Linked DNA regions of Homo sapiens. The protein of the gene in region 1 interacts with the protein of each later gene in a biochemical or structural test. Each region holds a gene or a part of one and is shown on either strand. Other genes may lie near its edges. The genes, in order: HLCS and ACACB.

What was found.
Region 2: the proteins of HLCS (region 1) and ACACB are reported together in a solved structure, tested with the Homo sapiens proteins (one study listed by BioGRID and IntAct).

Annotation. Positions count from the first base shown.
Region 1 is NC_000021.9:36,747,117-36,763,202, reverse strand, and holds the end of HLCS (biotin--protein ligase), read left to right. Parts: intron 1-3,361; coding exon 3,362-3,476; intron 3,477-6,222; coding exon of another isoform or gene 6,223-6,242; exon of another isoform or gene 6,243-6,447; coding exon 6,448-6,661; intron 6,662-8,785; coding exon 8,786-8,957; 3' UTR 8,958-14,577; downstream 14,578-16,086. Other genes in the region: SIM2 (single-minded homolog 2 long isoform), read right to left, coding at 15,111-15,538. UniProt on the Homo sapiens protein: Biotin--protein ligase catalyzing the biotinylation of the 4 biotin-dependent carboxylases acetyl-CoA-carboxylase, pyruvate carboxylase, propionyl-CoA carboxylase, and methylcrotonyl-CoA carboxylase.
Region 2 is NC_000012.12:109,225,831-109,241,916, forward strand, and holds part of ACACB (acetyl-CoA carboxylase 2), read left to right. Parts: intron 1-1,540; coding exon 1,541-1,659; intron 1,660-6,838; coding exon 6,839-6,976; intron 6,977-7,917; coding exon 7,918-8,017; intron 8,018-8,107; coding exon 8,108-8,215; intron 8,216-9,482; coding exon 9,483-9,539; intron 9,540-9,775; coding exon 9,776-9,817; intron 9,818-11,334; coding exon 11,335-11,550; intron 11,551-13,999; coding exon 14,000-14,155; intron 14,156-15,247; coding exon 15,248-15,451; intron 15,452-16,086. UniProt on the Homo sapiens protein: Mitochondrial enzyme that catalyzes the carboxylation of acetyl-CoA to malonyl-CoA and plays a central role in fatty acid metabolism.

The DNA.
Region 1 (16,086 bases):
AAACACAAAAAGTAGCCAGACATGGTGATGGGTGCCTGTAATCTCAGCTACTCGGGAGGCTGAGGCACAAGAATCGCTTGAACTCGGGAGGCAGAGGTTGCGGTGAGCCGAGATTGTGCCATTGCACTCCAGCCTGGACGACAGAGTGAGACTCGTATCAAAAAAAGGAAGAAAGAAAGTCCTGTCATGGGAGAAATTAACTCTAGCAACAAGTTAGTCTTAGGAAAATAACTAAAACAAACACTAAGCCGAGAACATTAAATGAGTCTGTTTGGTCTGTTTAGCTTTTTCATGGCTCTGACTTTGACCTTGGAGCCCCACTAGTTCCCTTAGCGAGCATTCTTTGAGGGCCTGCTGTGCTCAGAGGCTGCGTGCGCCAGGCGCTGGAGGCCAGGATGGAAGTGGGAAGCTTGCCTTCAGCGGTGAACGGGGTCGGGGGAATTTGTGTTCCCGTTCTCCTTAAGAAGCTTGTACCAATGTTCTTTCCCTCTTCTGCAGTCAGCTACCCAGCCTCACCTGTGTGATGGGACATTTGATTTTGAATTGGGTTTCTTTTTTAACATAGTCAAGTTAGCTGACACAGTGCAGCTACTTTGATTGAAATAGGCCCCTGTTGTTTGGATTTCACTTTTTGTGTGGCCTTCACTAGGACCCCAACTGGTCCCTAACCAGATGTCACCGTCAGCACACAAATCATGACCACCCTCCCCAGACCCAAGGCGGCCTCGCTGGGATGCAGGCATTCCTTCCGGAACTCGCCTTGGGCCGCCCATTCTCACTCCTGCTCTTTCTTCTGTCCATGAAGTCCCCCCGGGCCCCGCACCCTCCCTCCACCCACACACCCCTACCCCTGCTCTCTTCTCTGCTTCTTAAAATTCTGTTCATCCTTAAGGCCCAGCTCCAGTGCCATTCTCAGACCCTCCAGCTACTTCCAGCTCTTTCCTCCAGCACTGTCCAGCACTTGCCATGTTGAAGCCTCTTTTAGGGTATCCACCACGTGTGGCTTTGAAGAGGAGTGATGTGTGCACCTGTTCCGTCTCCCATGATGTTAGCAGCTCTTCAAAAGCAGGATTTGTTTCATTTTGGTCTTTTTTTATGTGGGAGGATCACAGCAGCTGTTGGAATAAATGATTGAGAAAATGAAAAATGAGCACACAGTCCTCCTCTTCATGTGGAAATGCTGGTCCTGTTTACCTGCGTGAGAACCCAGAGTTTCATGAGCTGCTTCATGAGCCGAGGAGATCTGAAGCCATGAAGGCGAGCTGGAGCCCAAGTGCAGGGCCCGCCCAGGCACCAGCTGCCACGCACGTGGCGGAGGAGCTTGACAGCTCTGGGAACTCTGCAGGTGTCCTCCCGCCGGCGAGGCAGGGGCTCATTCCCCTGGCCATGTGGTGGGCACAGGGGGATGTGGGAAGGCGAGAGAGGGGAAGGAAAGGGAACTGGGGGCAGTGATGAAGAGCAGAGCCTCCTAGACACAGGTTTCCTAGAGGAGACTTTCTCAGCCCAGTGCTATTGATATGTGGGCCCTGGCATGTTTGTCGTGGGGATGTCCTGTGCCTTAAAGGATGTGTGTCAGCATTGCGGCCTCTACTCTCTAGACGCCGGTAGCACTCCCTCAGGCTGTGACAACCAGGGAAGTCTCCCAGTATCGCCAAATCCACCCCTCTCCCACTGAGAACCCCCGTTCTAGAGAGAAAAGAAACGTGAAGCTGTTGATCAGTTCTGGGTCATTGCGCACCCCCCATGCTTGGTTTACTTAGACTTTTTGTTCTCCTGTGCTCCTATTCCTGTATTTTTTCTCTCAGCCTAAACTACTGTTTTAGGGCAGATGAGCTTCCAATATGCTCTAACGGGCCGAAGTCAAAAGAAGGCCTGTTGGAAGGAGGAAGGGATTTCATGGAAGCAACAGGCCGCGTAGCATAGGATTCCTCACCCAGGCCTGGTGGCAGAAAGGTTTGAATTTTAGCTCCGTGGCTTTCAAGTGCTATAACCTCAGGCAAGCCACATAATTTCTCTAAGCTTCCGTTTCTCCCTCTGTTCCCTGGGGATGCGCTAGCACCAACACATAGGCTGGGTGTGAGTAACACGTAGACTAATGCTGAGAAGGTGCTTGGTGCCATGCCCGGCCTGCAACGTGGGAAGACCAGCCCCGTGGCCCTTGGAGGCCATCAGCTACTCTCTGCTCCCTTAGCTTTATTTTGCTGAATGTTCTCTTCCAGCCTTGCATCTCCAGACAGGCTTCCTTTACCCACACATGGCACAGCCTGGCTGCCAGCCCGAGGTCTAAAAGACCTGGTGGTTCTGACACCCACTCGGCTAGCCCCGTCTCTGTGTCCCAACTTCAGAGTCACAGTGGATAGGCAGAGGCCTGGGTGGCCTTGTTCGAGACACTGTCCAGTGTTGGTCCATTCTGTAAGCTGATGACAGGGAGAGCCCCCCCACCCCCAGGCCACACCATTCAAGACGCAGAGGCAATAGGCCACATGACAAGTCCAGTTCCATTACCCAAGATGACCATTAGCAGTTCTGCGAGGCTTTCGCTAAGGTGAATTTCTCCTCTGCATCTTCACAGCATTCTTTTTTTTTTTTTTTTGAGACAGAGTCTCGCCCTGTCACCTGGGCTGGAGTGCAGTGGCACGATCTCGGCTCGCTGCAACCTCCGCCTCCCGGGTTCGCACAATTCTCCTGCCTCAGCCTCTCAAGTAGCTGGGATTACAGATGCACACCACCACACCCAGCTAATTTTTTGTATTTTTAGCAGAGATGGGGTTTCACTATGTTGGCCAGACTGGTCTCGAACTCCTGACCTTGTGATCCGCCCGCCTCAGCCTCCCAAAGTGCTGGGATTACAGGTGTGAGCCAGCGCGCCTGGCCACTGCCTGCTACTCAAGACATTTCTACCTGCCTTTTGTGACCTTGGTTAATTCAGGGCCATCTTTGTCTCTCAAGCATGGGTTCCTGAAGGGAGACGCCCCCTGAGATTACTATTCTCTCCCCACCCTCTGGCCCTAGCACGTTAGTTAGCTACTCCATGGTGGTGGTGGTGGTGGATACTGACATAATGAACTTCATTTACAAGGTAAGCATCTTCAGAAAGGGTTTTGGATGATGAGAAACAGTGCTGGGGGATGGGGAAGAATGCTGGGGTTTATGTCAACTGTGTTCTTCAGGGCTTTTACCTCCTGGCCCCAAGAGGCACTTCAATATCGGATTGTCCCAAAGAAGTGATTAGCTGCCTGAAAAAGAGGAGAGGACGAGGCCCATGTTACCTTGGTTTCTGCTTATCTTCCCTTAGCTCAGTGACTTGCCTGGGCCCCTTGTGTCCTGTGACGGCTTAATTAATGTGCAGATTTCCCTTTAGGATATCAACTTACGAGTGAAGTGGCCCAACGATATTTATTACAGTGACCTCATGAAGATCGGCGGAGTTCTGGTTAACTCAACACTCATGGGAGAAACATTTTATATACTTATTGGTAAGTTTCAAAAACCTTTCCCCCAGCATTTTTAGATTAATAAAACAATAAAAATAAAGACGGTTTATGCATGCCTACATTGGCAGGAGCAGATTATCATATGAGGTTACTTTGAGTCTTGTAGTTTTGGAGCAGGGTATAGATGCAGAGAGATTGGTCGAAAGCACTTCACAGGGTTTAGCATTTTCTGTGTGTGACCACGGGAACCACCAAAGTGGTATCACATCAAACAGGTATGTTCCTACATCCTTCCACACTCCTGCTACTCATTGAATTTGAAATGGTGAAAATAAACATTTAACGTTCTATTCTGTAATAAGAAAAAGAAAAGTTAATTTCCTAAATAGTTCTCCTGGTGTCTTGCATTCTTATCGTGACCTTCCTGGGCCATGAAAGAGCTGGCATCATTTTAACCTTCAGAAGAAGCTCCATGCTGGTCAAGGCGGGGTAAAGAATCCCTGTTTCACCTTAGCACATCCAAATCAGGCAAGAAGATGGATTCAGAGGCAATCTCAGAAGTCCTTAGGTTCCTGGCCGTCCAGTCATCAGCCTCACTCTGTGGCAGTAGAACCTAATCTGTGTTCAGAAACCAGCAATGGTCAAAAAACATGTAACCATGTGTTTCAAGTGCCAGCCAGGGAATACAAGGCCTGTGTTACCAGCTCTGCCACCAAGGGGCAATATTATTCTAGGCAAGCTACTTCATACCCTTAAAGCTCCATTTCCTATCTTTTTTTTTTTTTGAAATGGAGTCCAGCACTGTTGCCCGGGCTGGAATGCAGTGGTGCAATCTCGGCTCACTGCAGCCTCCGCCTCCCAGGTTCAAGTGATTCTCCTTGCCTCAGCCTCCCAAGTAGCTGGGAGAACAGGTGCCCGCCACCACACCCAGCTAATTTTTTTGTATTTTTAGTAGACACAGGGTTTCACTATGTTGGCCAGGCTGGTATCAAACTCCTGAACTCATGATCCGCCCGCCTCGGCCTCCCAGAGTGCTGGCATTACAGACGTGAGCCACTTGCCCAGTCTCCCCCATTTCCTATCTTTAAGTGAGTAATTGCAGTTGATGCAGAGATTCCTAGGTAGGGGCCACAAGCAGGCTCATGGATGGCTTCAGGGAGCTAACAAATGTTATCAGCGTGGGGTAAGCGAAGGCCAGGCGTAGTGGCTTGAGCTCATAATCCCAGCTACTTGCGAGACTGAGGCAGGTAGATCACTTGAGCCCAGGAGTTCAAGGCTACAGTGAGCTTTGATCGAGCCACTCCACTCCATTCTGGATGACAGAGTGAGACCCTGTTTCAAAAATAAAACATAAAAAATAGGCCAGGTGTGGTGGCTCAATGCCTGTAATCCCAGCACTTCAGGAGCCTGAGGTGGGTGGATTGCTTGAGTCCAGGAGATCGAGACCAGCCTGAGTGACATGGCGAAACCCTGTCTCCACTAAAAATACAAAAAATTAGCTGGGCGTGGTGGTGCCTGCCTGTAGTCCTAGCTACTCAGGAGGCTGAGATGGGAAAATCACCTGAGCTCAGGAGGTTGAGGCTGCAGTGCGCTATGAGGGCTCCACTGCACTCCAGTCTGGGCAACTGGAGTGAGACCCCGTCTCCAAAAAATAAATAAATAAAAATAAAAAATAAAGTAGGGGAATGAAACATTTTCCTATGGTGAGAACCCATAGCTTTTATTGAATTCTGAAGGCCATAGGATGGGGTCTCTGACTTTGGGGATTCAGAGCAGCCAGCAGGGTGCTCACCGGTCCTTAGAAGGACATAGCCTAAGTGGCCAGTAGTGAGTGTTGCTACTCCTCCTAGGAATTCCAGTTTTCTGAACACGGGAGAATTTTCAGTGCTGTACAGCACTTGATTTAATGCCTTACGAACGTTCAGTAGGTGCTTCAGATCCTGTATGTATTGAATGAATGAATACGTGAGCAACTGCAAGTCCTGCCCCTGTTGCTGTAGTTACTTGTTTTTTTTCCAGAGGTAATTGACAATTGCTTTGTATTTTAATAGCCAGTATATTGTTTTAAAATCTGAGACCAGTCAATCCTTCCCTTCACACTGGAAACGGCAGGACACTTGCCGGGAAGGCTGTTGTTACAAATGGCATTGTTCTGCCTGTGGCGAATGTTTTGGGGATTTTTTTTCTTAAAGTCACTGAAAACATGGTAGTTTTCTTACTGCTTAGTTTTTGCAGTATTTCATTTCTTACTGAAGACCTCTCGCAGGCCGATTCAGGGCCCTGCTGAACACTGAAGTCCAGCTTTTCTGAAGACACCGCCCTCTGCCTGGAGAGGATAGTGGTGTTAAGTAACTGCACAGATAAGCCTATTCAGACACCATCCCTGGTAACTCTCATGAAGCCTTGGTTTAGGACCCTGCAAAAAGCCACTGAACATGAGTCGGCGTCTTGCCAACAGCGTAACCTTAGCACCAAAGACTTCCAAGAATAAAGTATTAAAAGATGCATTTCTAGGGTTATGCCATGACCAAGGTTTGAAATCTCTGAGTCCAGAGTTTACTTCCCAAGTCCTGAATAAAACTCTATTTTCAAGCGTGGGATCTGTTATTCAAGCAGGAGAAGAAACCAGAGATTTTATTCTCTCCTGGACTCAGTGCAGAGCTACAATGCTTGGTAGACCACTTATTTCAGAGGCAACACTGATACGTTTTGTCCCATATTTAATAGCTTCTATTGAATTAAATTGAATCAAATGTGGCTTTCTTTTTTCCCACCTTTTTATTTGCAGTAAGGTTGAGATGGTTTTAGCTTGAACAAGAATAATAAAAGAAGGACAAAAAGGAAGATGGACAGAAATACATGTCACTCTTCAAGTGGTTAGAGACACGAAATCTGAAATGAGGACAAGGAAGGAGGAAGTTGACAGTCAAGACTGTAACTTTTTCCATGTGGCAGAGAGGAATGTGTGATGCCATCAACAGGCTGAGCTGCTCAATTGTTTGTTTTTGTCCAGGCTGTGGATTTAATGTGACTAACAGTAACCCTACCATCTGCATCAACGACCTCATCACAGAATACAATAAACAACACAAGGCAGAACTGAAGCCCTTAAGAGCCGATTATCTCATCGCCAGAGTCGTGACTGTGCTGGAGAAACTGATCAAAGAGTTTCAGGACAAAGGGCCCAACAGCGTCCTTCCCCTTTATTACCGATACTGGGTCCACAGGTCAGTGCTGGCTCATCTTCATTCTTTTCAACTCCTTTATTAGTATCTTAGTAGTTCTGTATCTTTTTTTTTTTTTTTTTTTTTTTTTTTTGAGACGGAGTCTCACTCTGTCGCCCAGGCTGGAGTGCAGTGGCACGATCTTGGCTCACTGCAAGCTCCGCCTCCCGGGTTCACGCCATTCTCCTGCCTCAGTCTCTCGTCTCAGTCACCTGAGTAGCTGGGACTACAGGTGCCCGCCGCCACACCCGGCTAATTTTTTGTATTTTTAGTGGAGGTGGGGTTTCACCGTGTTAGCCAGGATGGTCTCGATCTCCTGACCTTGTGATCTGCCCGCCTTGGCCTCCCAAAGTGCTGGGATTACAGGTGTGAGCCACCGCGCCCGGCCGTAGTTCAGTATCTTAAAATGAGGGACCGAGCACTGGTCTGAATGATTATTTTCTGTGTCTCTGTTAGAGAAACTGCAGGGACACCACCTTGACCAAGTTAGCATCACAAGTAATGGAGCAAACGGGCATCTTATGCCTCCTGGTGGGATGCGATGGGAAGAACCGAAATAGTGAGAGAGTTTAACATTGGTTTAATCTGATTCTAATTGTGAGGAAACAATAGACGCATCTAAATTGTCAAACCTTCCAGGTAACAGTGGTTCTCAAAGTGAGATCCCAGGAAGCAGCCTCAGCCTCAACCAGGGGCTACTGCATCAGAAACCCCTGGGCTGGGCCCAGCACCCTGTGTCATAACAGATACTCCAGGGATTCTCATGCAGCTGAAGTCCGAGGACCGCTCACTGATTCCACAACAACAGGCCTGTGCCCTGCAAAAATGTCAGGTCTGCGCACAAACAATTAGACCAAAAGAAGGTGGCAGAATTGTTTGGGATTAGAGAAGACGAAAGAGGCATGACATCTAAATGTAATGTGTGTGATCCTGGATGGAGGGAAATAGCCACAAAGGATATTAAAAGGACAGTGGGAATGACGTGAACATGGACCGTTTGTATCCAGACTTTCTTGAGTGGTCATAGTTAATGCTATTATAATTTTATGGGAGGTTCTTGTTCTCAGGAGATAAAGTATTTAAGCAGAAAGTGTCACAATGCCTGCAGCTTTTAAAAAACTTTTTTTATTTTCACTTTTTTTTTTTTTAGAGAGGGTCTTGCTCTGTCACTGGAGTGCAGTGGTGCCATCATAGCTCACTACTGAAACCTTGAACTCCCGGGCTCAAATGATCCTCCTGCCTCAGCCTCCCAAGTAGCTGAGACAATAGGAGTGTGCCACACGGCCCGCTAATTTAAAAAAAAATTTTTTTGTAGAGGCAGGGTCTCACTATATTGCCCAGGCTGGTCTTGAACTCCTGGCCTCAAGCAATCCTCCCACCTTGGCCTCCCAAAGTGCTAAGGTTACAAACATGAGCTACCACACCCAGCTGCAACTTATCTTTATATGTTGCAGGAAAAAAAAATGTGTGCTTGTGTGTGTTTATGTGTGAAGAAAGAAAGCAAATACAGAAAATATTTTCATTTGGTGTGAGAATGGAAGAGAATATGAGGTTTGTTGCACTATTCTTTCAGCTTTTCTTTAGATTTAAAATTCTTCAAAATAAAAACTTGAGAAAATTCTATACTTCGAAAGCTGTTAAGAAGGACGTGACTTGAGTACATTTGGAAAATATTCAAAAGAAGTAGGATCAGGATGAGTTTCACTTGTGGCTGATATGAGCCAACTTTGTTTTATAAGATAAAACATTGTTTGCCAACTCGGCCTATTTTCCTCCAATCTCAGCCAAAAAACCTAGAGTTGCACAGTGTTTCTTAAAAGCGCTGGGAGGTGAGGAAGTGGTTCCAGCCATCACCGCAGATGACCAGAATTAGGAGGAGTGACGTTGTGTGAAGAAATTTCGACTCCTTGTTGAACTTGCATCCTGCTGGTTATTTGAGCAGTTCTTAAAACCATTCACCAGGGTGGAAGAAAGTCAGAGCTCAGCCCAGGCTGCCTTTTCCCTGCAGCGAGCCTCAGCCCTCTCCCCAGCACGCCCAGCTCTCTCATCATGGATTATTCTTCAGCTCATTGTCTTAAGTCGTCCTGTGACACCTCCCAGTGACCGCACGCTGTTCTTCCTTTTCAGTGGTCAGCAAGTCCATCTGGGCAGCGCAGAGGGACCAAAGGTGTCCATCGTTGGCCTGGACGATTCTGGCTTCCTCCAGGTTCACCAGGAGGGCGGCGAGGTTGTGACTGTGCACCCGGACGGCAACTCCTTCGACATGCTGAGAAACCTCATCCTCCCCAAACGGCGGTAATGCCGGGCGTCCCCGAGACGCGGCTGCCTGTCCGTGCCCATGCATCTGGAAATCTAATTTAGAGTTGTAGGTGAATTTTCTTTTCCTCCAATTCATTTGTTAAGTCTTTGTTCTTTTTCTGTGTTTCTGTTTGTTTTTAGGTTTGTTTTGTTGTCGTTTTCTTTGGTGTTTGAAGAGGCTCTGGGATAGATGGTTAAGAAGTAGAAAATTTAGTTTAGGGAAAGCCCTCCCACAGGTGGGAAATTGCTCTCCCCTCTGTGGCTTGGACTTACGTTTATTGTCAAGGGGAGTTTTTACATGGAAATGACAATGGGAAAATTCAGATATTTTCTTAGTAGTGCAGACCTTTACCCCTAGTCTATGAAAAAACAAACCAAAATATGCTCTTGCGCCCAGGCCAGTGGTGAGTTAGAGGTATGCTATCACTGTTTGTAAGCATCTGGGGAGGTACTGAACTGTAAGAACATGCTTGGACACTTAGTCATTGTTCTGTGTTTTTATTAATGAAGAAAAGGGAAGACAGACTTCCAAGAGTTACTGTCCACCCGGTGGTGTGGCCCCATAGCGAAGTCTAAATGCCTGTAGAGATAGAGCTAGCTGGTGTGGTTGCAGTGACCTTGTAGAGGAAATCAGTTCATTACTTTGACATCATTCAGTGAGCTCTCCTTTCCTAAGGAAGTTTAAATGTCCTTAGTTAGGGACTGACTTTCTTAAGTAAGTTTAAATTTACTACATATTGTGAAGAGACAGGATCAAGTTCAGAATCCTTAAATGTCTGATTAGGCATCACTTGGATGAGGAGGTGGGCGATTTGGCTCTGACAGCTGGAGATGAAGGCACACTCATACCACATACAAGGGAGGATTTGGAGCTTTTAAGCCAGTTTCAGATTTACTCTGAAATGTGGAGCATTCCTGCAAGACTGTGCAGCTCACGGAATATAGAAGACATGGCATTTTACTCAGAAGTCATAAGTTTTTGCCCCCCTCATTTACCTCGTATTACCAAGAAAGAAAATGTTATCGATACTAAACACCATCAGTTCAGAGGGAGGATGTGTGTGTGTGCCCGCATATGTGTGTGCGTGCGTGTGTGCGCACATAGCTTTAAAAGAAGACATTCAAAATTTGATGTGCTACAAGCCTCATGAAAGAACAAAAGAAATGAAGCCTTTTGATATGCATTCGCTATTCCCAGATGTACGCCATGCCTTTTCCATGTCCCTCCTATCTCTGTTGAACTTATGAATCATACTCATTACTTTTCAGCTTTTTAAAAGGCCAATTTTTGTCCAGTTTTCTCTCTTCCAGTCCCAGCTGAAATTAGTGGAAAGAAAGTTTGATGGAGCTTTCAGCTTTGAACAAAATCCCTTCATTGTAAACTAGCACCATCTTTATCCAGGTCTTACCCAGTCAGGCTAATTCCAGAAACTTGTGGTTTTTAGTATAGTCTGTCTACCTTTAGCCAGGCACAGGACAGCCCTATGAAAAAATACCCAATATATATTTTTTGGAAATGAAACATTAAAAGAACTTAAAAAGTAATTTTTGGAAATGAGGCTTCAATTAGAATTATTTTTCTCAAAAAACAAACAAACAAAAAACACAAAAAAAACCACTCTTCTCCAAATGCCCAAGCCTTCTTTCAAAATTAGTTAGAAACTTAAGTAAAATACAAGTCCACACCATCCCCAAATTACAAAATGGACTTACCCTTGAGAGGGCATCTGCAGAATATCATCAGGGACAAAGATCTCGAGGCTAACGATGTAGGTTTCATTTCTCAGACTTTGTAATATAAGGCAAGCCCTCTCTCAGAGCTGCCATCATCACTTTTTGAATTTCTTTGGGGGTTATTTAATGAAAAACATGCTATGTTTTGTTTTAAGCTGAAGTCCTATTCTGGACACTCTGCTTTGGGAAAAAATGTTATCATTTAATTTCCTTTCTGCAAATTAAAACTAATGAAGTGTGGCCTTGTCAAAGGCTATGGAGATGTTCCGGGCATACTGCTGTGCTCTGTGCTTTCCAGCAGGCGCTCCTCCCTCACGCAGGAGACTCAGTTGTCCTGAGAGAGATGAAGCAGCCTTGAAGCAGATGCTGCGTTTTCCATAAACCTGATTTTGCCTCACATGAACCAAAGACTCTCAAAACTCCGCTTCTATAGAATTAGCTGAATAAAGGCATTTTACTGATAGCTGTTCGTGTTAGCGAAACCTGTCTACCTGCTATAGCACACTCTCCGATTTGGGCCATTTATGCACCCCGCAACCTGGGATCTCAAGGAGCTTTAAAGTCTTAATGGGAACTTGGCATTTTCCTGATGATCTTTAAAATGTGGTCACTAAACTCAGGATTGGCGTGTGCTTTTAGAACACTGGAGTAGCCCTTGTTTTAGAGGCTGTGCATTGAGTATCGACCGTATTTTGTAAAAGGCAAGATATCCTCCCTTCCAGGCTGGTAACGGGTTTCAAGGGGACTCTTGAGGAAGTGCCCCCTAAAATAGAACACAGCAATAACTGGGCTTCCTGTCCCCACCCCCACCCCAGCAGTGCTCTCTGGCACTGGGAACTCTGCTAGGGAGTGGTGGAAGTAGGAAGGATTTGTGTGCAAAGGAAAATCGTGGTTGAGTTTCACTGCAGCAGGCTGACGTTGCCTGATGTGAGAGCAAGTGGCCGACTGGGGTGCGGGTGCACAGGTCGGGGGAGCACAGGCCACAGAGCGCAGCCTCTGGGGGTCCCCCAAGGCACAGCATATACAGCATGGTCGCCCCTTGCCCTGGAGTCTGGGAACAAAGAGAGGAGCCAGCCTCCCCGCACTGCTTCAGATGGAAAAGGGAGGCAGGGTGGGCTTCCGTTCTCCAGATCTGTTTGCTCTTAACAGGCAGAACATGGGAGAATCCTTATTCCTGGTTAATCACTATGCATATTTGAAATAAAAGAAAGCGTAAGCCTCTGCAATTTTAACTTCTCAAAGGATGTCTCTGAAAAGAATCACTTTAAACCAATGCCTATAAAAAGCAAGTCTACCAAAATAAACTAAGACTTTCTATGTGGTTTGGGCTCCCTCTTATTTTTACAAGTTTCATTTTTAAAAGTAGGCAACTACTTTGGGTTACAGTATTTTTATTCATATTTAAACATTTTTACAAAATAAATAAAGTGTTTTACATAGTAAGGAATATGTACGTATTTCCAAGTATTAAGAAGCCAAGTGTTTTTTTTTTTGACGTATTATTGACAAATGTATTCAGCGCCATACACAAGAGAAATATTATTACTCCAAAGAACGAAAGTTAACAAAACTCCAAAGCAAAAACCCTTTTAATGGAGGTGAGAAATAAATTTAATGTAACAACAGCTAGATTGTTTTTAGGATTTTTCTTTTCTTTTGTGGAAACTTCTTGACTTGACTTTTCATCTGAACAGTTTTTCCCCCCAAGATTTTAATCTTATATGTCATACTTAAGTTTAGGAACAGCTTGAATAATTAGCATTCTAGATAACACAAGGGCCATGATTCACTAAAATTCCAAGCTACTGTAATTTTATGGCATTTATTTGCAAATGTTCTTTGTATCTCATTTTATCTGTAGCAGTCCCCACTAGTCTACCTTAACCATCTTATAGCTCTGGTAAATTAAAACTTACGTAGACTTTATACAAGATCCATTGGCCGTATTAAACCTCCCCCACTCTTAGGGCTTAGGGCGGAAGGGACGAAGGCAGGGCTGATAGGACTTTTAAAAGGATAAAAGGAGTGGGGGCAAGGGAGGCGGAAAATACAGGCTCTTGCAGATACCCTCCGCGCTGCCCTCCACACCCAGCCCACTGCTCTACAAAGGTATGAATGGAATGGCTTTTCTAGAAAAGGGCTTCCAAGAACATAAAGGAATTCCTTTCCCTGGGAGGCCCCGTGGAGGGCTGAGCCAGCCTTGAATTGGGCTTATTTCTCAAATCCATTTGATCTGGCATTTTTGTCAACATGGTACATGTTAGGGCCTACGATGATTTTTTTTTCTTTTTTGTAAAAGAGAGGCATATGTATTAAAATGCTTCCTCTTCCCCTGCCGGAGCCTCACAGAAGTCAAGAAACGCTATCCCCAGCTTAAATGTGCAGACTCTTCAAGATGGAGGTCACAATATTAGGTTGCCACAGTAACAGCTCTGCTGACTTCACACTCAGCCCTGGCCGTCCTGAAGCCAGCTCGTGTAAGAATCTTCCTTCATGTTCTAGGTTATGAAAACGAAGTTTGTTTAGACAAGGACGTTTTCACTAGTACACATTTTCAAGTACATACACACTCTGTTACGCCTGTCCACGTTGTCACTTGTAAATCTATGATAGGGTCTTTTTTCTCAACAGTAACCTTTGTTATTGAACTGCTCCGATAGCCTTGATTTATTTTTACTAAATACAGCCCCAAAAGTTAATAACAAGGTAGACACAAAAGCATTTTGCAGTACTTTATTGAAAAATGTCGGTGGTATCTCCTAGTAATCAAACCTACACCTTTCAAGAATCACGGTTTAATTACAAGACTCATGAACATAAAAAAATAATACCCTCGGCTTATTTCCTGTGCACACACTCACAAGGAGCTGTGAATGAGGTATAGCTGAGTGCGTGGAGAGGCGGGCACATCCCTTCCTACCATCCAGCCCCTTCGCTGCATGACCCACGGTCCTAAATTTGCAAATTGTGACTCTTACCATGAGGCCCACTGACAGACACCCTGTAGGGATTGTGTCAGGTCCTCACTAAGTGACACAGGGTTGGCAAAAAAAAAAAAAAAAAAGTCAGTTCACATTTTGAGAGCAGTTGGTGTAGGTGCACTTGATTTTAGAACGATGAGTTTAAAACATTTGTGAAAACCTCTTTCCATTCAGAAAGGTGGAAAAAGTTTCCTAAAATAAACCATTTTGATAAAGCAGCAAAATGCTGCAGTGTTGATAGTGTGAAGAAAATTGAAGGACGGCGGTTCAATGCATTGTGCAGTTCAGAGCCATGACAGGATTTTTCCATGTTGAGATCTTTAAGCAAAACCCATAAAAAGTAAAAATTAATGGAAGCTCATTTTTTAAACACTGCTGGTGCTTTATGAAAGGATTTCTGTTTACCTGTTGCACACGTAACATGTTCTTACGAAGTTTTCTCGCTGTGTAGAAAATGCTTAAAATGTCTACATCATTTTCATTACACCCCCTTAAGCATGTTTTTCCTTCACAAGGTGCAGTCCATTGACAGTGTTCCGTATTGCACGTGCAATTTAACTTTATTAGCACTATTTGTAGCAAACACGAGCCTAGTGAATTACAGATCTGTGTGGGCCAGAGGGATTTTGCCACGTAATAATGAAGCTTGACAGGGTCATTCTCATAAACTGTCTGGCTACATATATATTTTTGCATTTAATGCCTATTCAATATATTCTGAAGGTGCTACTCTTGGTGTTATCAAGAGTTCATAGGGGTTAGGGGGAAGTAAGAGCTTGTTAATGTATTTGGGAAGCACACCTATGTTCACAGACACAAAATGGAATTGCATGGTCACCCCCTTAGTCTTGGTTTGTTGGCTTTTTGTATTGAAGAAAGGGTTAAATAAAAACAAAAATAATGAGACTCTTGAATGACTTTTAAAGACAGTGGAGTTGTGTATTCATGGGACTTACAATCATCACTTCTGCCTTCACCTAAGCATCTAAAAGGGCTCGTGACACAGGCGTCCCCTCCCAGGTCTGCCGTCCACTTGGAAGAGCGGACTGTGGTAGGGTGGGTTTTCCCTCCTGAAAGTGGAGGATATTTGCGGAGTGAAACCGCTTCAATCCCCCAGCGGGACTGTTGTGGAACGTTGGGGACAAGGCAAGACGCGTGAAGCCCGATTTCAAGGTGAGGAAACCAAGCCCCCAGCAACTGGGTCGCACCGGCCCTCGCAGGACAGAGGCGGGCGGTCACCTGCCCGGACCCGGGCGCTCCTCGGCCCTCGGCACCGGCGCGCGGGGCCTCCGCGGTGGAAATCCGCAAGTCGGCGGCGGGGTCCAATTCAAACAGCTGTCTCTGCATAAATTAATGTAGGTCGTGCGCATTTGCCGGGCTCGGTGGCGCCGCAGCCCCGGGAGGCCGGGTCCAGGCTCCTGGCGCGGGCGGCCAGCGGGTCACCTCCCGTTGGTGATGATGACCGAGGCGCCCAGGTAGTGCGGCAGGGGCGCGCCGGGCGGGGAGGTGGCGGCGGGGCTCGGGTGCCGGAGCCGCAGCGCGCCGGTCGCCGCCTCGGGGCCGCCGGGAGCGCAGGCCAGGCCGGAGGCGGCGGGTGCGGCGCCCCCCAGCGGTCCGCGCCGGGCCAGCACGCGGTGGTAGTTGAGCAGCACGAAGGGCAGCTGCGCCGGCGCGCCCGGGGCCTCGGGGGTCGGGGGCGCGCAGCACTCGGGTGCCGCGCGGGCCAGCGCCAGCCGCGCCCCGTCCCGGGCGGCCTGGCGGGCGGCTTTGGCCGGGCCCAGCGCGGGCTCCTCGCGGTAGTGGCCGCAGCTCGGGAAGCTCGGGGGCGCGGTGTCCTCGCCGAACCTGCGCACGGCGGCGGCGGGCGCTGCGGGGACAGGCGACACGTTAGAGGGCAGCAAGGGGCGCGGCCGCAGCCACCCCACCCCCAAGCCCCGGGCGCAGCCACCACCCCTCGGCCGCCCACGCGCTGCACCCGCGGGGTCGCTGTCGCCCTCCCCCGCCTTAGTCTAGGCCGTGCTGTCCAATCTCAGGACGCGACCTGAAATGTTCCAGGAGCCGCGTTACAAAGCAGGGAAACAGGTGGAATGCCTGTTAAGTAATACACGTTAATGCAGCATATCCAAAATACTCTCTCAATGGAATCCGTGTGAAACAATTATTGGGATATTTTCTTTTTTTTTTTTTTGGTCCTGAGATGCAGAGCGCAGGTCACACCTGCCTCACTGCACTGGCCACATTTCCATGTTCAAGACCACACGGGGTTGGTGGCTACCTGATTGGACGGCAGAGGTCTAGAGGCCACCAGGGGCCCTGGTGTTGGAGGGCCCCCGTCTGCTCTGATTTCTTCTGCCCGTCCCTTAGTGGAGAGGGGTGGTAACCACCCCGATCGGTTTCGCCGTGTCATAATGAAAA
Region 2 (16,086 bases), on another chromosome or scaffold:
TGTATGGAGAAAAGAATGTAAACCATCTCAATAATTTCTTATATTGATTACATGTTGAAATGATAATATTTGCATATGTGGGGTGAAATAAAATATATTATTAAAATTATTTTTTATCTTTTTTCTAAGTGGTTACTAGAAAATTTAAAATTATAGGCCAGGTGAGGTGGCTCATGCCTGTAATCCCAGCTCTTTAGGAGGCTGAGGTGGGAGAATCACTGAACTCAGGAGTTGCAGACCAGCCTGGGCAACATAGGAAGATCCTTTCTTTACTAAATATAAAAAACAAAAAAAATTAGCCAGGTGTGGTGGTGCCTGTAGTCCCAGCTACTTGGGAGGCTGAAGTGGGAGGATCCTTTGAGCTCAGGAGTTCAAGGCTGCAGTGGGTTATGATCTCACCACTGTACTCCAGCCTGGGTGATGGAGTGAGACCCTGTCTCAAAAGTAAATAAATAAAATAAAGTTACATACACAGCTTGTGTTATATTTCTGTTGGACAGCACTGCTCTAAAGCAGGGTTTGATAAACTATAGACCATGGACCATATTTGGCCCACCACCTGTTTCTGTAAAGTTTTATCAGAACGCGGCCAGGTACGGTGGCTCATGCCTGTAATCCCAGCACTTTGGGAGGCCAAGGCGGGCGGATCACCTGAGGTCGGGAGTTTGAGACCAGACTGACCAACATGGAGAAACCCCGTCTCTACTAAAAATACAAAATTAGCCAGGCATGGTGGTGCATGCCTGTAATCCCAGCTACTCAGGAGGCTGAGGCAGGAGAATCGCTTGAACCTGGGAGGAGGAGGTTGTGGTGAGCTGAGATCATGCCATTGCACTCCAGCCTGGGCAACAAGAACAAAACTCCATCTCAAAAAAAAAAAAAAAAAAAAGAAGAATGCAGCCACACCCATTCATTTACATGTTGTCCACAGCTACGTCCGTGCTAACAGCAGAATTGAGTAGTTGCAGCCAAGATGATATGTCCCACAAAGCCTAAAATATTTACTACCTATCTCTTACAGAAGTTTATCAACCCCTGCTCTAGAGTTTAGAGTGGATTTTGTGTAACTAGTAACACTCTGAAATATGAGCAAATTTGCTCTTAACTGCTGCTTAGAAATCTTTTTTTTTTTTTAATTGAGGAAGGATTTTTCTCTGTTGCCCAGGCTGAAGTGCAGTGGTGCTATCATAGCTCATTGCAGCCTCAACATCCTGTGCTCAAGCAATCCTCCCACCTCAGCCTCCCGAGTAGCTGGGACTACAGGCGCCTGCCACCATGCCTGGCTAGTTTTTGTATTTTTAGTAGACATGGGGATTTGCCATGTTGCCCAGACTGGTCTCGAACTCCTGGGTTCGAGTGACCTACCTGCCCTGGCCTTCCAAAATGCTGGATTGCAGGCCTGAGCCACTGCACCCGGCCTGCTTACAGATAGATATTTTAGAGGTCATTTCTGGTACCTGTTCCCCGTGAGTGCCCTCAGCTTTTGAGCACACTCTGCAGTGGCCCCTGAGAGAATGTCCGTGTGTTTCTGCCTTGTCAGGTTTACGTGCGGAGGGGCTACATCGCCTATGAGTTAAACAGCCTGCAGCACCGGCAGCTCCCGGACGGCACCTGCGTGGTAGAATTCCAGTTCATGCTGCCGTCCTCCCACCCAAACCGGTATGGAGTGGGACACACCCAGGGACGGCCTGTGTTTCTGTTCTTCCTGACCTCTGTCGTCCTGTCTCTGGAAGGACCTGGCAAGTGTGTTTGGGCACGCTGCTGGGGAGACATCAGCGATAAGCACTTCCCCTGTGGGAGCTCCCTGCAGCGCCATTTTCTCCCCTCTAACATGGTGATAATGCAGAGCCCACCTCCTACACCTGCACTGTTCAGTACAGTAGCCATGTGTGCCTATTTACATTAAAATGAATGCACATGGGCCAGGCGCGGTGGCTCATGCCTGTAATCCCAGCACTTTGGGGGGCCGAGGCGGGCAGATCACTTGAGGTCAGGAGTTCCAGACCAGCCTGGCCAACATGGTGAAACCCCATCTCTACTAAAAATACAAAAATTAGCCGGGCGTGGTGGCACATGCCTGTAATCCCAGCTACTGGGGAGGCTGAGGCAGGAGGATCACTTGAACCCGGGAGGCAGAGTGAGTCAGTGAGCTGAGATTGCCCCACTGCACTCCAGCCTGGGCGAAGAAGCGAGACTCCGTCTCAAAAAAAAAAAAAAAAAGAGGCCAAACACAGTAGTGGCTCACACCTGTAATCTCAGCACTTTGGGAGGCTGAGGTGGGTGGATCACAAGGTCAGGGGTTCGAGACCAGCCTGGCCAACATGGTGAAACCCTATCTCTACTAAAAAAAATACAAAAATTAGCCTGGCATGGTGGTGTGCACTGGTAATCCCAGGTACCCGGGAGGCTGAGGGAGAACTGCTCGAACCCGGGAGGCAGAGGTTGCAGTGAGCTGAGATTGCACCACTACACGCCAGCCTGGGTGACAGAGCAAGAGTCCATCTCAAAAAAAAAAAAGAGAAAAAACAAAGAATGCAAATGAGCCAGCCATGGTGGCCCACACCTGTAATCCTAGCACTTCGGAGGGCTGAAGGGGGCAGATCAGGAACTTGAGGCCTGGAGTTTGACACCAGCCCGGCCAACTTGGTGAAACCCCATCTCTACTAAAAATATAAAAATTTGCCAGGCGTGGTGGCACACCCCTGTAATCCCAGGTTACTCGGGAGGCTGAGGGATGAGAATCTCTTAAACCTGGGAGGCAGAGGTTGCAGTGAGCCAAGATTGTGCCACTGCACTCCAGCCTGGGTGACAGAGCGAAACTCTGTCTCAAAAAAAAAAAAAAAAAAAATTCAGCTTCTCAGTCATACTGGGTGGCTCATGGCTGCCATATTATTTGACAGTGGAGTTCTAGAACATTCTGTCATGGTAGAAAGTTCTAGTAGACAATGCCACCCAAGCCATTGGGAAGAGTCATGAGATAAGGCACATGTAGCATTTTAGACAGTGCCTGGCACAAAGGAAGTTGTTGACTGTAAGTGATCCCGGAGATGATCATGACTAACGCTGTTATTACCATCTAGTGGCATGCCATTGGCCTGGGCACTCTGCTCAGTGCTCCCACACTCTTTTATTTATTTATTTTTTTTGAGATGGAGTCTCGCTCTGTTGCCCAGGCTGGAGTGCCAGTGGCACAATCTCAGCTCCCAGATTCAAGCGATTCTCCTGCCTCAGCCTCCCGAGTAGCTGGGACTACAGGCGCACACCACCATGCTCGGCTAATTTTTATATTTTTAGTAGAGATGGGGTTTCATCATGTCAGCCAGGCTGATCTTGAATGCCTGACCTCAGATGATCCACCCGCCTTGGCCTCCCAAAGTGCTGGGATTACAGGCGTGAGCCACCGTGCCCAGCCCACACTCTTATTTTATTCAGCTCTTATCCTCTATCGGCCAAAAATGTGTTCTCATCCTCGTTTTACAGATGGGAGCCCTGGGCCCTCACCTGACCTAGGCTGAGCTGCTTGTGCACGTGGAGTGGGAATTTGAGCCCAGGCCACACTCTCACCTCCAAGTCCTTTCCACAGCATTCAGGGGCCCTCTGAGCCAGGTGTGAGGGCACCTGTCCTGTCTGTGTCCACTGTAGTCTGCTGTCCAAGAGCTGTAGTTCAGTAGATACCCTCAGTGTTCTCACCTGAGAATATCTTTTTTTGATTTTTTTGAGATGGAGTCTCACTCTGTCACCCAGGCTGGAGTGCAACGGCGCGATCTCAGCTCACTGCAGCCTCCGCCTCCTGGGTTCAAGCGATTCTCCTGCCTCAGCCTCCTGAGTAGCTGGGACCACAGTCATGCACCACCAAGCCCCACTACTTTTTTTTGTAATTTTAGTAGAGATGGGGTTTCACTGCATTGACCAGGTTGGTCTGGAACTCCTAACCTCAAATGATCTGTCCACCTCAGCCTCCCAAAGTGATGGGATGACAGGCGCCACCATGCCTGGCTCACCTAAAAATATCTGATGTGTCTGAGTTCCTCACTCACAGTCTTTTTTTCAGTCCATCTTGTTTCAGGACCCAAAGTATTAATACCATTTAGGTCAGGTAGAGTGGGATACCTTCTCTTAAAGTAATTATGTCTCCTTGGGATTCGAAGTGTTCTCTCTCACGCTCCCTCACCCCTCTGGTTTTAGTTCTTATGGGGGTGCCCAAGGCCTTACCTACGGCGGCATTGATGTCATTGTGATTTGGGAGTTCGGTTGATCAGATCTGTACAGGCAATAGGGTTCATGCTTTGGTGAAGCGGGGATTTTTCTGGCCTCTTAGGATTTTTAAAATAACTTTCTTTTCCTGTTGGTTTTAAGAAGAAAGATGCTGCTATGTTTTGGATGAAGAAAAGGGGGCTTCCCCACGAGGCACTGCCTTTCCTAGTTATTTGTTTTTACCCTTCTTATTTCCAAAAATAGGATTGTGACATTTTACCCCATTGAGAGAAAGGGGACTGACTGCTTGCAGCCTGGGGTCATTCTGGGGATTTGGAGAGCAGTGGTGGTGTAAGATATTTTGTAGCTGTCTACTCCTGAGAAGGACTCTTTTGATTTTTTTGTTTGGTTGTTTAGAGACAGAGTCTAGTTCTGTCACCCAGGCTAGAGTGCAGTGGTGTGATCATAGCTCACTACAGCCTTGAACTCCTGGGCTCATGTGATCCTCCCACCTCAGCTCCCTGTGTAGCTGGGACCACAGGCTTGCGCCACCACACCTGGCTAATTCTTTAAAAATATTTTTTTGCAGAGATGGGGGTCTCACTATGTGGCCCAGGTTGGTCTTGAACTCCTGGGTTCAAGTGATCCTCCTGCCTCGGCCTCCCAAAGTGCTGATATTATAGGCGCGAGCCCCTGTGCCTGGCCTTCTCTTTTGATCTTATTGTCCCAGCAAGTCAGCCCTGTTAGGAAGGGAAGGGCGGCTCTCCTGAGGGCTGTGGGTCATGCCTTGTGAGCTACACGTATATCCAGGTTATTGGTTGTGATTTTCAGTATGGGCACAGGGTCCTTTTTTGACCCAGAGAGACATTGAGGACCCTGGGGGATTCCTGGCCATCTAAGATTCTCATGATTGCTCTCAGTGCCAGAAATGTACTCTGGGCCTGTGAAGAGACCTTGCCTGCGGCTGCCCCCACCAACCAGCCCTTTAATGCCTCTGTAAAGGGCCATGAGGAATAAAGTCTATCCCCAAGATGGCCTGGCTTGGCCCTCAACACTTGTGTGTGTAGAGCCAGGCACATGGTGCTTTAGGTCACCGAGACCCAAGGGAAGGTCAGATGAGAAGTTGGCAGGGCTTTGTGCCAGCTGCAGCCTGGACCTGGACCTCTGTGCTGGGTGGGAACTGGCTACATCCCCCTGCGATGGGGCTGCTGTCCTAGCTCTGCCCACTGTTGCCCTGCAGGAAACTGACCATCACAACCAGACTTCTCCATGATTTTTTCCAGCAGAAGCAGGAAATCTATTTTTTTTTAACCTGAAGTCCTTCCATTTTTCAATGGGGACAGGTAATTCATGTTAAATGAATACATGAACACATGTTAATTCATGTATGTTATTAAAATGCTGCATGGACCAAAGTCATTCTGTGAGTGGCATTCAGCCACACTGCCACTGCAAGTTTGTGACCCCTGGATTGAGCTGTCGGGGAGCAGAGGGGCCATGATCGTGATTTCAGAGCACCCAACAGGAATGCACACACCTGTGTCAGGGTCCCCAAAAGCACCCCCAGGTTCGATCATCGCCTAGGAGAACTCACAGGTCTCGGGACATAGTCATGCTTATAGCTCTGACTTATTAGGGGGCAAGGATACAAAGCAGTTAGCCAAGGCAGAAGGCATCAGGGTGAAGTCCAGAGGAAAGCAGGTGTGCTGCCAGGGTCCTCTCCCAGTGGATTCACGCAGGGTGCACTTCATTCCCCCAGCAAGGAGTTGTGACAACACAAGTGAAGGGTTGTCTTCCAGCCCCGCACCAGGGATTGGTGGCTGGTCACATCACCCTCTGCTCTGCATCGAAATCTCAGGCTTGCAGAAGAAAGCAGGTGTTCAGCATAAACCACACTGTTTGTGCAAACAGTTGAGGCACAGTGAGCCCCCCTTGTCACCTTCAGGGAACGATAGGAACCTTCCCCAAGTCCAAGTTCCCAGAGGCCAGCCAAGGGCTGTCCTTGCAAGCAAGCAGGTCTCCTTTCTCAGAAGAGCAGTGTGGGGCCTGCTGTGCTGACTTCCTGCACACCATTTCATTACCCCTCCCGTATCTGATTCCAAGGCCCAATTCTAACAACCTCAGGTGGCCCATTGAGATTTGCTGCTGGTGAGCAGCCAGTTCTGGGAGCATCGTTGTCTAAACTCCAGAAGGCTGCTGACTTTGTCCCAAGGGCAAGTTTGATGGAGGGATTACAGGGAGCAGAGGACTGGAGTGTCCGTCAGGACCAAGCCTGACTGCCTCACCAGCTGCCTGGGGCTGGTGGATTTCTCCAGGAGAAATTGATGCTGGGAGTGTTTCTTCTCTGTGGTCAAGTTCAGCACTTGGGGCTCCCCTCGGGACTGTGTTGAGACTGGACTCTCATGCATGAATCATTGATTCCTACACTTGTTGAGCTCTTACTCTTCACCAGGTCCTGAGGGATCAGATGAGACCCTCCTCAGGCCCCGGCCCCAGCCATTGTCTCATCCCCTGCCCATTTTAAGCCCCCATTTGGAAGAGCTCTAAATCTGGTCCAGCTCACTGAAGCTTCAGGAGTAGGAGCAGCTCGTAGAGTTGGGTCTGCAAGCAGCTGCCTCATCCCCGACTTGCCATCACCTTACAGGATGACCGTGCCCATCAGCATCACCAACCCTGACCTGCTGAGGCACAGCACAGAGCTCTTCATGGACAGCGGCTTCTCCCCACTGTGCCAGCGCATGGGAGCCATGGTAGCCTTCAGGAGATTCGAGGACTTCACCAGGTACCCAGCATGGCCCGGTCTCCAACACCCTGAGCATGGGGGCTGGGCAGACTTCCCTTGAATCCCCCCCCAATTCACTGGACAGATGGGGTGGGAGAGACCCAGACACGTGGCACAGCATGTCAATAACAACAGAATAATAATAGCATTGTAGCCAAGAGTATGAGCCTACATGTCAGCTTGCCTGGCACAGCACATCAATAACAACAGAATAATAAGAGCATCGTAGCCAAGAGTGTGAGCCTGCGTGTCAGCTTGCCTGGTTTGAATTCTGGCTATGTGCTTTCTAACTAAGAGACTGAGCAAAATATTTTTACCTCTCCATACCTTCGTTTTCTTATCTGTAAAATGGGAATAATAAAGGACTCACTTCATAGGTGCGCCATGAGAATTAAATGAGATAACATATGTGAAATAACATATTTAAAGTATAATTAGTATGCAGATAATATAGTGACTAAATGTTAGCTCTCAATAGTTACTGTTATAGTCTTTTTTCAGCCTTTCACTGTGTGTTCTGCTTTGTGCTTGGAGTATCTTGTGGAATTTTCACAACAGCCTCATGAGGCATAGGGATTACTCTTATTACCTTTCTTTGACTCGGGGTGAGGTGAGGTTTCTAGGATCTCCCAGCCAGTAAAAATGGGAGCCAAGAGTTGATCTCAAGCCCAGCTGATGCCTGAAAGCGCTGGAATCCTTCCCTGTATTCCTGATCACAGATCACTTAGGTTCATTCTTCCCTTTTGGGAAGGACCCCATCACGGGTGCTCTGGACAAAGTAGACAGGGAACCTCCTGAGCTCTGTAGAGTTGGATAAGATCAAAGGGTGTTGGCTGGGAAATTGGGAGGGTCTGGCGTTCCCTGCTGCCTGGCTTGGAAGCTTGACCTCATCCCCATGGGTCAGCAGCCCCTCAGCCCTCCCTCTCTACCCGCACCCCCAGAAATTTTGATGAAGTCATCTCTTGCTTCGCCAACGTGCCCAAAGACACCCCCCTCTTCAGCGAGGCCCGCACCTCCCTATACTCCGAGGATGACTGCAAGGTAAGCGTCTAAGCCCAGGGAGCAACCTGGGGAGCAGGTGGGCCGTGGCCCCCAGGCTTTCCAGCCCTACCCCTTGCTTCTCCCTCTCAGAGCCTCAGAGAAGAGCCCATCCACATTCTGAATGTGTCCATCCAGTGTGCAGACCACCTGGAGGATGAGGCACTGGTGCCGATTTTACGGACATTCGTACAGTCCAAGGTACTCTGGGCGTGCCTCTGGTTTTGGTGGGGGTTCTTGGAGAAGGAGGAGGGGCTGGGCTCGTCGAGGCGGCCCTTGGGGAGGCAGGCGTGCTGAGTACTTCAGAGCCACAGACCTGGCTTCCCACTCTAGCTCTGCTCGCCTCATAGCTGGCGACCTTGGGCAGATGTGGCTGAACGTGGGGTCAGCATTTCTCTCGCTCACGGTGTTGCAATGATTCAATGACAAAGTATATACACGGCTTAGCCAGTCCCAGGTACGGAGGGCACACCCAATAAATAGTTTGGAGATTTTCTGGGAGTGTTTTTGTTGGAATAATCCAGAAACTGGCAGTTTTAAAATGGCTACTTACATTGATGACCAAGTGTGCCAATAACAGCAGGTTGCTCTGTAAGCCTGTGATGCCATTGTATTTCAGCCTGGGGGACAGAGCGAGACCCTGTCTCAAAAAAAATTATATATATTTACAGTATACAATGTGATATTTTTTAATTATCTTTTTAATAACAGCTTTATTGAGACATCATTGACATACTACACAATTCACCCATTTAAAGTGTGCAGTTTTGCAGCCATAAAAAAGAATGAGATCATGTCCTTTGCGGGGACATGGATGAAGCTGGAAGCCATCATCCTCAGCAAACTAACACAAGAACAGAAAACCAAACACCGCATGTGCTCACTCATAAGTGGGAGCTGAACATTGAGAACACATGGGCAGAGGGAGGGTAACAACGCACACCGGGGCCTGTCGGGGGGTGGGGGCCGAGGGGAGGGAACTTAGAGGACAGGTCGGTAGGTGCAGCAAACCACCATGGCACATATATACCTGTGTAACAAGCCTGCACGTTCTGCACATGTATCCTGTTTTTTTTTTTAGAAGAAATAAGAAAAAAAGTGTACAATTTAATATATTTTTAGTATATTCACCAGGTTGTACAACCATCACCAGAATCAATTTTAGGACATTCTCATCACTCCATAGAAAAACCCTGTACCTGTTAGCAGTCACTCCCCTCTGTCCCCAACCCAAAAACCCTCTCCCCACCACAGCCCTAGGCAACCACTAATCTACTTTCTCTCTATATAGATTTGCCTATTCTGGACGTTTCATATAAATGGAATCAGATCACAGGAGGTCTCTTATGATTGACATCTTCCACTTAGCATAATGTTTACAGGTTCATCCGTGTGGTAACATGCAGCAATACTTCAGTTCCTTTTACGGCCAAATAATATTCCATTGTGTCTTTGGTTTTTAATGCAGAAAAATATCCTTGTGGATTATGGACTCCGACGAATCACATTCTTGATTGCCCAAGAGGTTAGTTCACAGTTCATCTCTATGAGTCTTTCCCATTCTCCAAGCCTTGGTGTGTGCCATTTATTTGATATTTATTTTGTAGATTTGGGTGAAAGAGATCATTAGAAAGGAGAAGGATTTCCAAATGATTCATTCTAGAAGTGAATGTAATCGTTTACAATCACTAAATAAGGATGTACATATTTCAGTGCGTCTTGCTTGATTTAATTGTCTTGTGTGTGGATTTCTTTTTGCAGAAAGAATTTCCCAAGTTTTTCACATTCAGAGCAAGAGATGAGGTATGGCCAAAAGTAATGATGTTTTCTCTTCTCTAGCATCTTGTTTTATTTTTTAAGAGATGGGATGGGGCCGGGTGTGGTGGCTCAAGCCCGTAATCCTAGCACTTTGGGAGGCTGAGGCAGGAGGTTTGCTTGAGCTCAGGAGTTCTAGACCAGCCTGGGTTATATAGTGAGACCCTGTCTCTACAAAAAAATTAAAAAATCAGCCTGGCATTGTGATGCAAGCCTGTGGTCCCAGCTACTTGGGAGGCTGAGGTGGGAGGATTGCTTGAACCTGGGAAATAGAGGTTTCAGTGAGCCAAGGTGATTCCACTGCACTCTAGCCTGGGTGACAGAGTGAGACTCTGTCTCAAAAAAAAGGAAAAAAAAGAGATGGGGTCTCACTATGTTGCCCAGGCTGGACTCGAACTTATGGCTCAAGCGATTCTCTTGCTTCAGCCTCCCGAATAGCTGGGACTATAGGCACATGCCACCGTGCCTCCCAGCTCCCTGGCATCTTTGATATTCATGAAGAATATAGTCTGCAGTCCTTAAGGCATCCCCATATTCAAGAATGTAGCAACTTTTGTGTAGACTGCAGTCTTCCTCTGGGATTGTATTTCCATTGAGAGCCCTCTGTTCCCTGCATGGCACTCAGACCTGAGAATCTTGCCCTTTCAGCCTCACTACAGGTTTCTGTCTTGCTTGAATAATTTTCAGTACTTGCTGATGTACTCAGTAAGACATTTTTTCCAAACTGTTTTTCTTATGCTCGTCTAGAACAGTGGTTGGCAAACTCACTTGCAGACCAGCTGCCTGTTTTTACGAATAAAGTTTTATTGGAACACAGCCACACCCGTTGGATTCCACATTGTCTACTCTGGCTTTCACTCTAACAGTAGCAGAATTGAGTAGTTGTGACAGAGCCCGTATGATCCATCAGCCTAAAACATTTACTCTCTGGCCATTTAAGAAAACGTTTACCGATCCCTGTTGTAGAACAGGTAGGTTTATTCCCAGCACTGATTCAAGACCCCACCAAATTCAGCATTTTGCATTTTAATTTATCCAAAGCTTTATTTTTCTAGCTAAGACACATCCTTTTCTTAATGTCTTCATTTTTTTTTTCAGTTTAGTTTCCAGTACTGTCAGTTGCTTTCTTTTCGGGGACCAATTTCCACCAAGAAACCAGGGGTTAGTGGCTTCATGAGAATTGCCACAGGCTGTGACAGATGGAGAACAGCCTGGTCACGCTGGCAGGTGATAGGGACTAGCTAGGTTCCCCCAGGAGCCAGCGCTGCACCCAGCACAACAGGCTTGCAATGCCCATAGCTCTCCTCAGATCTTAGCAAAACCCCAAATATCTGGAGCCCTGGGGGTAGCTTACAATTAGGGAACATCATGAATGCTGCATTCCTGAGTGCCAAACCCATGGACACCAGGGGTCTGCAGAGTAGGGTGTGGACCAAGCAGGGACGCAGCTCCAACGTCACGCTGTGTGTGTATGTGTCTGTCTTCTCTCTCTGGTCCGCCTACAGTTTGCAGAAGATCGCATTTACCGTCACTTGGAACCTGCCCTGGCCTTCCAGCTGGAACTTAACCGGATGCGTAACTTCGATCTGACCGCCGTGCCCTGTGCCAACCACAAGATGCACCTTTACCTGGGTGCTGCCAAGGTGAAGGAAGGTGTGGAAGTGACGGACCATAGGTTCTTCATCCGCGCCATCATCAGGCACTCTGACCTGATCACAAAGGTAAGATGTCGCAGAGCATTTCTTCCTCTCTCAGAACCTGGCCCTCCCTTCCTTACATTCCTGCTCTGTGCTGGGTCCTGGGCTGCATGCTGGGGATGGAGAGTACACCAACACCCAGGGTCCTGCCCTTGCTATGCTCCAGTCCAGGGCAGGAGGCGGACAGCAAAGTGGCCTGTGATCACGTCCAGGCTGGTGGCACTTGGATCTGTTTCTTGTATTATGTGGGTCTCTGCGCATGAGAAGAAAATTTCCAGGATAGAAAAATACTGGTTTGTTCAGGGAATTTCTTAATATTTGCTGACTGAGTGATCGTTTTCCATTGTTTCTTGCATTTAGAAAAGTAATCCATGGCCGGGTGCAGTGACCCATGCCTGTAATCCCAGTACTTTGGGAGGCTGAGGTGGGCGGATCACTTGAGGTCAGGGGTTCAAAACCAGCCTGGCCAACATGGTGAAACCCTGTGTCTACTAAAAATACAAAAATTACCTGGGCGTGGTGGCGTACACCTGTAATTCCAGCTACTCAGGAGGCCGAGGCATGAGAATCGCTTGAACCTGAGAGGCGGAGGTTGCAGTGAGCTGAGATGGAGCCCTTGTACTTCAGCCTGGGGGATAGAGTGAGACCCTATCACAAAAAAAAAAAAAAAAGAAAAAAAGAAACAGAAGTAATCCATGATTATATTGTGAAAATTTTAAATAAGACTGAAAACGATTTTTAAGAACCTAGCGCAAGGACCGAGAATCCTGTCACTGAGGGGCCAGCTTAGTTGTTGACTGTTTCTAGACACAATTCCGTCCCTGAAACCTAGAGTTGTAGGCATAAGTTGCAGATAAGAGCTGAGAGTGGACAGATCATTTGAATATATTATTCTTTAATTGGTCAGTCACTTGTGGACCTCTTTCATTGTTAATAAAGAGTGGTCCACCACATATTATTTCCTTGCATGGATGTACCGTGTATAATTTTTTTTTTTTTTTTACTAATCCCCTATTGATGGAAACATATATATATTATTATATATATAATTATATATAATAATATATATAATATATTATATAATATAACATATAATATACATAATATAATATATAATATGTTATATAACATTATATATACATAATATAATACATATTATATGTATTTATATAAATATATATTTATATAAATGTATATATAATTATTATATATATATATTTTTTTGGAGATGGAGTTTTGCTCTTGTTGCCCAGGCTGGAGTGCAATGGCACAATCTCAGTTCACTGCAACCTCCGCACCCCCGGGTTCAAACAATTCTCCTGCCTCAGCCTTCTGAGTAGCTAGGACTACAGGCACACCCCACCATGCCCAGCTAATTTTGTATTTTTAGTAGAGATGGGGTTTCTCCATGTTGGTCAGGCTGGTCTGAAACTGCCGACCTCAGGTGATCTGCCCACTTCGGCCTCCCAAAGTGCTGGGATTACAGGCGTGAGCCACCACGCCTGGCCCTATTGATGGATATTAAGCTAACTGCAGTTTTTTTGCTACCTGTCAGCTAGATGTTTTATTTTTATTTTGATACAGAGATTTGCTCTTGTCACCCAGGCTGGAGTGCAGTGGCGTGATCTTGGCTCACTACCACCTCTGCCTCCCGGGTTCAAGCGATTCTCCTGCGTCAGCTTCCTAAGTAGCTGGGATTATAGGCGCCCACCACCATGCCCAGCTAATTTTTGTATTTTTAGTAGAGACGGAGTTTCACCATGTTGGCCAGGCTGGTCTCGAACTCCTGACAACTGATCCACCCATCTCGGCCTCCCAAAGTGCTGGGATTATAGGCGTGAGCCACTGTGCCTGGCCAAGCCGTTTTAATAGGTTTTATTATTGTTGAGGTATGGTGAGGCCAACAGATAAGGAGACAACTGCCATCAAAAAGACAGTTTATTACTCATAGTTCCCAAGAAGAAGGGGTTTTCCCTGCCATGGGGCCACATGGGGAGGCTCTGGGGTTGGTCAGGCAGCAGAGGGACAGAGGGGAAGACATGGAAGACGTGGACGAGAGCCTTGATTGTGGTTTCCTGGAGAAGAAAAAAGTGAGGCTGAGTAAACAGGTTTAGGATTGGCTGTGAATCATCTCAGCAGACCCTGGCATATAGAAGCTGTCTCTGGTTCTCAGGAATCTGGCCCTGGGTGATTAGAGCAGGTGGTTTGTGTCCCCAGGTATGATCCAGGGTCAGCAAGGCCCCAGGTGTCAAAGTGTCAGAATGCAGAAAATAGGACACATGTCAATACACTCAACAGCTTTGCAGTCCCTTCGCCTCTGAGAGGCAGGGCTCTGCTGTTCTTGCCTGGCACACTTTTTGGAGGAGGGGAATGTTTTCCTCCTGTCTCTGCCTCTTTGGGGCTGAGTTTCCAGCCAGCTGGGAGTAGGCCTGCACCCCTGGCCTGAGCAGCTGCCCCTCCCACTCTTTGGCAGGAAGCCTCCTTCGAATACCTGCAGAACGAGGGTGAGCGGCTGCTCCTGGAGGCCATGGACGAGCTGGAGGTGGCGTTCAATAACACCAGCGTGCGCACCGACTGCAACCACATCTTCCTCAACTTCGTGCCCACTGTCATCATGGACCCCTTCAAGGTCTCGCCTTTGCAGGGGGGCTCTCACCGGGCTCTGGGTTCACCCTCTGAGCCATGCTGCTTTGGGGTATTGTCTCTTGCCACTCAAGACCTGGGTTCCAGGATGAAACCATGCGTATCTGAGCCTCAGTTGCTGCGGGAGGAGAGCAAACCTTCTGCCATTCAATTCTAGAGCTATGTTTTAGCCATGCCCTGCACGGGAATGCTTTACTTTAAGGATGACAAGCATGCTCAAAATGTCTTTCAAAACAAAATTTTGTCCTTTCCCTGGTTCCAGGCTGCGCTGGGGACTGCATGTGGGTGGGGAGAGACGTGAGACCGTGAGGTCTGTGGCTGAATGTTCCCTGTCAGGTGGCTCTTCACGAGCAGACAGACTTTTATGGTGGTGATTCTGGAATGAAAGAAGCCCCACTTGTAATCCCAGTACTTTGGGAGGCTGAGGTGGGTAGATTGCTTGAGCCCAGGAATTTGAGACAAGCCTGGGCAACATGGAGAGACCCTATCTCTACTAAAAATTTTAAAAATTAAAAAATAAAATATTAAGATTATTAATCAAATTAATATTAATATCGATATATTAATATTATTAAAATATATAAATGTATTTTATTTTATTATTTAATAATATATATTATTAAAAATAATTAATACAATAGTATTATTAAAAAGAGAAGTCCTGATACATCCGTTTGGTATCTGGGGGATTCAGGGGACCCATGTGGAGGCTCTGGCCTCACTAGTTCAGGTAGTTCCAGAAGGAAGCAGTGCAATGGCTTGAGTCAAAGGCATGTAAAGATAGTATAACATAGCAGTACTAGTTCAGTCACTTATCAGCCTCAGTTTCCTTATCTGTCAGTGAGGGATTAGAAAAGCTCGCCTCTCTTGAGTACTTACGAAGGCAAAATGAGGTAGAGTTTTAAATGCTTAGCAAGAGCCGTTGCTTGTTATTAGTTAATACTTTTTGTTGGATACACACTATGTCCCAGGCGTTTTTGCAGTCAGTATATCTCATCCTCTTATTAGTATCAGTGCTATTGCAAATGTCCTTGGGATGTCTTGGCCCTGAAACTGGAATTGCTGTGTTTTGGGGCAGATCGAGGAGTCCGTGCGCTACATGGTTATGCGCTACGGCAGCCGGCTGTGGAAACTCCGTGTGCTACAGGCTGAGGTCAAGATCAACATCCGCCAGACCACCACCGGCAGTGCCGTTCCCATCCGCCTGTTCATCACCAATGAGTCGGGCTACTACCTGGACATCAGCCTCTACAAAGAAGTGACTGACTCCAGATCTGGAAATGTAAGGCTGGCCCGCGCCGTGGGGGTCTAAGTCAAAGCAGAAGCAGGCTGCTTGGGCCATCAATTTGTAGATTAAGATGGCATTTGGAGGCGGTCTTGCCTTGCTCTCCCATGTCATTCTGGGTTGGGGTAGCCCCCTCTGAGTGTTATGTTAAATGTGTTAGCCTTTGAATCTTGGTTTTTCACTCACCTAAAAAGGAGAGTGAATCTCCAAGTTTAATCCATTCTGTGGCCATGTTGGATTTTTGATAGAGACAAGGTGTCACCATATTGGCCAGGCTGGTCTCGAATTCCTGACTTCAAGTGATCTGCCCGCCTCGACCTCCAAAGTGCTGGGATTATAGGCGTGAGCCACCACGCCTGGCCATATGGCCATATTTGGGATAAGTTGTGCACTACTGTGGTTGACTGTAATGCAGTCCTCAGATTGGTTCACTTAGGGAAATACTTTCCCAACCATGTTCTAGGACAGACTTTTGTAAAGTGAATTAAATGTTCTTTTGACTGCCATTTAAATTCCTATGTGTGTACATAAAAATATACATATATATACACGCCATTTTTTAAAGAGATATTGCCTAGACTGGGCCTGAACTCCTGGGTTCAAGCAATCTTCTGGCCTCAGCCTCCCAAGTA